Linked DNA regions of Homo sapiens: region 1 is linked to region 2. The links come from fine-mapping of genetic effects on gene expression. A gene starts in region 2. The other region holds a variant in brackets. All regions are shown on one strand. Distances are from middle to middle. Region 1 has its middle 64 kb from the start of TRIM69. Region 2 holds the start of TRIM69 (tripartite motif containing 69).

Evidence for each region. PIP is the estimated chance that this variant, and not a neighbour inherited with it, causes the effect.
Region 1: its variant is fine-mapped to the expression of TRIM69 in whole blood (INTERVAL, PIP above 0.99).

What each region holds. Positions count from the first base shown.
Region 1 is chr15:44,798,066-44,802,597 of GRCh38, reverse strand. No RefSeq gene overlaps it. Among named protein-coding and RNA genes, the nearest start is that of TRIM69, 64 kb to the right of the region's middle. The variant A/T (reference allele first, on the strand shown) is at 2,018.
Region 2 is chr15:44,734,810-44,738,809 of GRCh38, reverse strand. TRIM69 (tripartite motif containing 69) reads right to left here and starts at 2,282. Exons shown (of 7, transcript NM_182985.5): 1 at 2,100-2,282. The coding sequence starts at 2,105.

The DNA.
Region 1 (4,532 bases), 64 kb before region 2:
TCCTGCATCTCAGTGGAAAGCCAGTTGTGAGACATTTGTCAGTGCATCACTGCCTGTACCTTCTGCTTCCTGTTTGGTAATTCTGCTTTGACAAAATTGGTCATTCTTTCTGTTTACCACTCTCTGGTGCATGCACATTTTTGTATCCCCAGAAAGGGACTTTCTATACTTCTAGTGTTCCCTGATTTTGCACTGGAGTCAGCAGATGACAACAATTTTTCTCTTTGCCAAAACCTAAAAGAAGGACCCCACTTCCCTGCTTGGTGAGAGGGTTTTCCTTGTTCATGGTTTTCTGTCATTGAGGCTAAACAAGCAGGAGCCATTATAACTTGTGATAAGAAACCATAAAAAGTACAGGTGATTTAGGATAAATGCATCTGACAGGGGTGTCAAGCAGGAGTCAGCAACTTTCTCTAAAAGGGCCAGATAGTACATACTTTAGGCTTTGCAAAAGACACAAAATGATATTATGTAGGTGCTTATATAACTGTTTAAAACATAACCATGTAAAACTATTCTTAGCTTATCAACTATGAATAAACAGGCATTGGTCTATGAATAAACTGTTTGGCATTGGTCTGTGGGCTGCAGTTTTCTGATTGCAGTGGAAGTCTGACTGTTGTGGAAGACTGACCTGGGGGATGAGCAGTAAGGCAAGGTGGTCAGGTAGGAGGGTGGTAGATAAAAAAGACCAGGACAAAGTCTTGGATGGTCACAGTGGGGAAGAAGGAAGGAGGAGGAAGAAACTAGAGGGAACTTAAATATCTGATTGGATATGATGGATAAGTGAAAGATGAAGCAAATGTGATCTGGAGAGCTGGCTGCAATTTGTAACGTTGTCTTTGGGATTCACAAACATATTAGGATATTAAAAGCTTTGAAAATTCCTGCAGCAAGTAAATCTGTCTGCTCAGTCCAGCATTTCTCAAAGTTATTTATATATTGTACCCTTCATTCATGGACTACCTACTAATGCCCCCAGTGAAGTAACGTATCATGGAATGTACTTTAGGTTTCATGGGCTTGCTCTATAGTTGCGTAATCCATGTTGTAAGAGTGTGTGTTCCTTGAAAAGAGAGTTAACAAATTTACCATTTGTGTGCGTGTTTGTGGGGGAGGGTTATGAAATATGAAATACAACTCCTGTGGAAGGTGGTATATTACAAATTAATGTAATCTGAATGGCTGGAAGAATTACGCAGAGATTCAACAGGCCAGATTGGTTTAATAGTTTTTAAGTTATGGATATAATTAATGAAAATTGAGAGTGCTAATAGTTGTTTTTAAACTATTTTAAACTAAAAACAACTACAGTTTTGTCTTGTTTTTTAATTATACTTCAGGTTTTAGGGTACATGTGCACAACGTGCAGGTTTGTTACATATGTATACATGTGCCATGTTGGTGTGCTGCACCCATTAACTCGTCATTTAGCATTAGGTGTATCTCTTAATGCTATCTATCCCTCCCCACTCCCCCCATCCCACAACGGGCCCCGGTGTGTGATGTTCCCCTTCCTGTGTCCATGTGTTCTGATTGTTCAATTCCCACCTATGAGTGAAAACATGCGGTGTTTGGTTTTTTTGTCCTTGTGATAATTTGCGGAGAATGAAAAAACAGTAAATTCACGTGGCCCTTTAAAACCTTCATTTTCTTTTCTTTTTTTATTTTTCTTTTATTCTCTCTCTCTTTTTTAAAATTTTAAGTTCCAGGGTACATGTGCAGGATGTGCAGTTTTGTGACATAGGTAAACGTGGACCATGGTGGTCTGCTGCACCTATCAACCCATCACCTACGTATTAAACCCAACATATATTAGCTATTTTTCCTAATGCTCTCTCTCCCCCTTCCCTCTCCCCCACAGGCCCCAGTGTGTGTTGTTCCCTTCCCTGTGTCTATGTTAAAACCTTCATTTTCAATCTTTTCAGTATGGTTCTTTTATTTATCTGTCTTTGAATCCTCCTTAACAAAATTAATTGTTCCTTTTTTATTTATTTATTTTATTATTATTATTATT[A/T]TTTTTTTAGATGGAATCTCGCTCTGTCGCCCAGGCTGCAGTGCAGTGGCACAATCTCGGCTCGCTGCAAGCTCCGCCTCCCGGGTTCACGCCATTCTCCCGCCTCAGCCTCCCGAGTAGCTGGGACTACAGGCGCCCGCCACCACGCCCAGCTAATTTTTTGTATTTTTTAGTAGAGGCGAGGTTTTACCATGTTAGTCAGGATGGTCTCGATCTCCTGACCTTGTGATCCACCTGCCTTGGCCTCCCAAAGTGCTGGGATTACAGGCGTAAGTCACCGCACCCAGCCCATTTTTTTGTTTCAAAAAAATTTTTTTTCTAAGATACTTTTGTTATAGCATACTCCTTTCTTTTTAAAAAATCCACAGCAATTTTTATATATCTCTTTTAGCACTTCAGATTGCATAGGGTTTATCTGGGTATTCTCATGGTTTGTTGGACTAAATTAGTAGAAGACACTTATATTTCTTTTCCCAGTCCTCAGCAGAATGCCAGACATATCATATGTTCTCTTGGATTAATAAATTAATAAAAGTTTTGGGAAAGTGACCATTCCAACCTATATCTGAAATACAAATAAAGTTAGATCCTGTATCCATCAAGGTCCAATCAGGAAAACAGAAACCATTCCAGTTATTTTAACAGGGATAATTTAATATAGGGAATCGAATTGCTAAACAGGTATTTAGAAAACTATAACTCCAGAAAGATATGCAAACTACAGGAAATATCTTCCACCGTTAGAACAGGGGAGCAAAGGGTAGAGTGGATTAGTTGAACCTAGAAGCTTGGATGAAGAGCCCCATAAAGTTGAGAACAAGACCACGGAGCAGGAGGTGCCACCTGGCTGGTGCTGGTGTCTCTGCAGGGACTCCAATGAGGCTGATTCTGGAAATTAGAAAAAAAAAAAAAAAGACCTAGACCCAAATGCTGCTGCTAGGGTGAAGAACTATTGCTGAGGGGATGTTGACAGACACAGAAAGCAAAGAGCAAGGGGCAAATCCCTTTGCCATCCTCTAGGTTTGCAGTCTTCCTCTAATACCCTTTATTGGCAGAGCCTAACAGGAAACCAGATGGCAAAGGATAAATTTTATTTGTGGAGTCCAGCCTCAAAATCATGTAACAGAGTAACAGGTGAGTGGGTGGTGCTAAGATACAGTAGCTTAATAACCAGCCTAGTTCCCAACCTACATGTATAGTCAATTTCCAAGTGGCCTGACTCTGGATGACTCAAGAGGGCTTTTCCTCCTCCCAAGAGCTATTATAGTCACAGGTATATTTTTGAATCTTTCCTTTTTTTCTTAGACAGCAGAAGCTGTTCATTTTAGTAGAGAATATCATGGTTGTAATTGCATTTCTCTTATAACTCAGAAAGGGTTAAATAAAGAGAAAAGATATTTTGGCAAAGAGCAAAACTATTTGGCAACTTGTTCTAAAGGGTTTTTCAGCGTCCCTAGATTCAGCTGTTTCTAATCCTGTGATTATATGCTTCAATTTCCCATTTTAAGTACCAGAGATTAAGTGGTAACTCCTTTATTGCTGATGGCGGTGCTTAGTGGACAGCTGGGGGATGACAGGGCTGTGTGCTGAATCCAGATGCACAAGAAACAACAGGAAAGGGGCACTCTGACCGTCCAATGGCCCTGTCTCCTGAGGGGGGGTAAGGTGAGGCTTCTGTTTAGATGTCTCAGTGGTCACTGCAGAATCAGCTTTTTCTTTTCTTTTTCTTTTCTTTTTTTTTTTTTTAACAGATTAAACAGTTCCAGTGTGGAAGTCTGACTTAGGGCAATGTGTGTAGTGTGAGGAAAAAGGATGACAGCTGGTTTTGAATCCAGCTCAGTCACTTGCCAACTGGGTGGCCCTGAGTAGTCACTTCACTCAACTCTTCACTTTATCATTGATAATAACTACCTGTCCTGTCCTCTTATTTGGCTCACTTTGAGGATCAAAAGAGATATGACTAAATATGAAAACATATTGCAAAGAGTAAAATGAAATAAAAACAAGGAATCGATCATGATGGTGTTGGGCTATTTCAGTTTGCTTGGTTTTTGACTCAGAAGCATGAGAGAAATACATTATCCCCAACAATTCCTTTCTGTTATAAAAAAGTTACAGTGTGTACCTTTCTGGGCTTGTGTTGTGTATTTACTTCCACATAAATGTTTATCTCTAAAGTTATCAATAAAGCTCCCAGTGTGGAAGTGAAAATAAACCCAGAAAAAATATCTTTGTATTCCCAGGCCAATTCAGTTTTCATTATTTATTATATTCAGTTTTTCTTGAGGCCAAAATGGAGTAGAAATCTCTAAAAAATTTAGTTTGAATCTAGAGTCAACTAATAATAATACTAGTTAAAGCAGTAATAGCATTTATTACATGCTTGTGTGCTGGAAACTTTTAAGCATCTATACTGTGTTGCCTCCTTAAAATAACCCTATGAGGTAGATTTTGTTTTTATTGTCATTTAATATAAGGAAATGAAGGCATAATAAAACTCGCCTAAGGTTACAGA
Region 2 (4,000 bases):
AAATACGTATTATTACTACATATTTTAAGGAAACTGAAGCTCAGATTGCTTCAAGTATCTTCCCAGAGTCACAATTATTAAGTAGTGGGTCTCAGATTTGAACTCTTTATTTGACCCCAAAGCCTATTAACCACTGAGTCAGCAGAGAGCCCATCAATATGTTTTGTGGAATTGAATTTATTAAATGGATCAAATTTGTGAAGCAAAATATCTGCAATAACTTCCTACTGCTCTAGAGGGAGCTATAGAATTGGAAACCAAATGAGAGTCTAAAATTTCTGGACCTGGAAATCTTTTAGGAAACACATCTACTGCCAGCCCCTTTTAGGGGAAGAAGTCTAACCTTAAGGCAGAGAGAGAGAAACTCGAGTCAGGAATTGATATTCATCCTTATAAAGCCCTGGCTGGCAGGAATCACTTTATAAGAAAGCACATCAGCAGGTCACGATGGCCCAGGCCTGTAATCTTAGCCTCACTTTGGGAGGCTGAGGCAGGAGGATCACCTGAGGTCAGGAGTTGGAGACAAGCCTGGGTAACATGGTGAGACCTCATCTCTACTAAAAAAAAAAATAATAATACAAAAATTAGCCAGGCGTGGTGGTGCGTCCCTGCAGTCCCAGCTATTTGGGATGCTGAGGCATGAGAATCACTTGAACCCTGGAAGCGGAGGTTGCAGTGAGCTGAGATGGTGCCACTGCACTCCAGCCTGAGCAAGAGAGTGAGACTCTGTCCTAAAAAAAAAAAAAAAAAAAAAAGAAAGAAAGAAAGTATGTATCTTCCTCCTTCAGTTCACTGTGCACATTCTCAAAGAGCAGAGAAAAGGCAAAGAGCTATGAAGTCCATGGAAGCTTGCATAAGAAATCCTTAATTTTTACCAGAGATTTTTTTTTCCTGAGAAGTTTTGTGTTGTAAATTTTTGAAATCATAGTTAAGATATCTAAGGAGAGTTCATTTGTTGCTTTTCAACCTTTATTCCTTCAAAGTAATTTTTAAACTTTGATGGGCAGTTTTTATGAAGAATTAACTTTGAGAGCAGAAAAATACAGTTCATCCACAGAGACAAACTATATAGCACAGCCAGCTTAAACCTAAGAGCAAGACACACTCCTGCTTCACGAGTCAAGCCATTTGCACATAAGAAGGCAAGATTCTGAACTTTCTGACTTCTTGGAGCTTCCCAGAGTTGAAAGAAATTTTAAGCCATTTAATTCACTCCTTTCCAACCTCTGCCTGAACATCTGAAGTAATGGGAAACTCACTATCACACAAACAATTTTTTTACTATTATGGAAAAGTGTCTATTTTCACTGACTTGGCCTTAAAGTAATAAGAATATAGTAGGTTTAGGCAATAGTGTTTATTTTTGCCCTAGAAATTATAAACAAAATGCTTATAGCCCTGTTTGCTTCAATAGCTAAGCACAGAGATGAGTAGCAGCAAACCTAAAGGTCCTATGATAGAGGAAATTAGAAACTGATCTTAATGATTAATATAATGAAATTAAACTTTATAAGAAGTGGAAACTAGTGGAAATGGATGATAACTCAGGATTCAAGGGCCCCTGAAAAACCCTTAGTGAGTTTTTCAAGCTTTCATGTAGTAAATAACCATTTTCTTTTGTTTGACAATCAGGAAAACACTAAGTTCAGAAGAACATAACTTCCTTTATTTTAGCTCTGAAGAGGTCTTAAAGGAAGAATTCAATTAAAAATGTTTACTATCTAAGTATCAACTCTGCCTTAAATATAAAATAATCAAATGTGAAGGTATTGTAAGCAAACCAAGTTATACATAATAATTTTTAAATCTAAAATAAAATGATTACATTGATAATGAAAGTAAATTGTATATAGTATATAGTTTATTTTTTCTCAAAATGTTTTGGTGGATTTCATTACTTTCCTACCAGCTTCTCTAGTATAAATTATCAGTTATTCCAAGGCTTGGAGAGAGTATAGTAGCTACCAGCTGTCACAAGTTAAATACTTCCCTTCATGAATTTCCTTTTGTGCTCCTAAATCCATATCCTCTTCTATGATCCTGTTTTCCACACTATTCCTAGAAGCCCTGCTAAGTTAAAAAAAAAAAGGGTCACTCACCTCCATGAAGCTTCAGCCCACCAAGGGGCAGAGGCAGGCACTTGAATCAGAGCTCAGCAGGCCCAGGATGGCTGCAGACTGGGAGTCAGGGACCTTTTAGTTTTCAAGGAATGGGCTCAGAGCATGATGGAAGAAAGAAAAGTTCAGGAGCTGGAGAGAAGCAGCAAGGCCAGAGTGAGGTCTGGCAGATTCCGTGACAGTTTGTCAGTTAACTTTGATCATCATTTGCTTAAGAGAAAGAGAAACCCTCATTAGAATACCCTACCTGCCCAACTTTTCTTTTGTAGGAGACAAGGGCAGCTCATTTAGATTCGAGTTAGTGGTCTAATCTTAAGGTTCATAGCTCCCCATTTCTGGACTAAGGATGCTCTATGAAAGAGGAAATACACGTCAGCAGCAGCCTATATTAAGCCTAACTCATGAAAAATAACCACCTCACCCCTGTTCATGATCCCATCACACCATCAAGACACCAGCTGAGTGGCTTTAATAGAGAGCTAGTTCACCTCTCATATTCCAATGAAGCAGCCCTGATTTTATCTCTGAGACAGTAACACAGGCCTGGGAAACACCAGGCCCTAAGAAAGCAGGATGAAAAAAGCTTCATTTCATACAGCTTTCTTCAGCAGTTTTAGCTCGCAGAGAGATGTACCAACACTGTGCTCCTGAGTGACTTATAAAGAGCCACCACAGAGCCAAACAGTTTTTCTTACAGTAGTTCCTCTAACTCAATATGATTTCTTGCACGTCTAGCTCCTGCCTAGCTGTCCAGACTTAATGACCACAGCTCTTTCCCCAGTGTTTGGGATCGCCCAAATATGTCACGCTTCTGCAGCTTTGTATATGTTGTCCCTTCGGATGGGAGTTTCCCTTCCCCCACACCCCCGTCATTATCTCTTTACTAAACTCTTCCCTAACCACCCCCTCATCCCCAAACCAAGCTTTACCCACTTCCCTGTCTCTTGTAGAAGATATTTTGCTGGCTCTATACCAGAGGTTACCAACCTCAGCCCTATTGATATTTTGGGCCTGCTAAGTCTTACGTTAGAGGGGCTGTCCTGTGAATTTTAGGATATTTAGCAGTGTCCCTGGCGTTTACACACTAGATGCCTGTAGCCACCCCCCCCCCACCAAACCCAGTCATAACAAAAATGTCTCCAGTCATTGCCAAATGTCTCCTGGGGGCAGGGGTTGGAATCACTCCCCAGTTGAGAAACACAGCTTTACTCCCTTCCTTCCTTCCTTCCTTCCTTCCTTCCTTCCTTCCTTCTTTCCTTCCTTCCTTCCTTCCTTCCTTCTTTCCTCTTTCTTTTTTTCTTTCTCTTTCTTTCTTTCTCTCTCTTTCTGTTTTCTTTCTCCCTTTCTTTCTCTCTCTGTTTCTTTCTCTTTCTTCCTTTCTTTTTCCTCTTTCTTTCTCTCTTGCTCTCTTTCTTTCTTTCTCCCTTTCTTTCTCTTTCTCTTTCTTTCCTTCTTTTCTTTTCTTTTTTCTTTTCTTTCTGACAGGGTCTCACTATGTTGCCTAGGCTGATCTCAAATTTCTGAGCTCAAGCTGTCCTCCCACCTCAGCCTCACAAAGTGCTAGGATTACAGGTGTGAGCAACACCACGCCTGGCCTAGTTTTACACATTTCTATAGCACCCTAGATCTTTGTACACGTGGCTTTAACAGAGTGTATTCTAATTGTTTGATTGCATGTCTGCCCCTCCACTAAGTTGTGAACAAACCACAGGATAGGTAGTACTGTATCTTGCTCACCTTGGCAATACATGGCATTTGTTAGATCAAAACCTTTGTCAGATAAATGTCTATGAAATGCTGGTGATCACTTAGTCAAAAAAGTAATTTTGTTTCATCTTGATTGTTTTTGTTGTTGGCTAAAACATTTGACAATGCTTAGTATA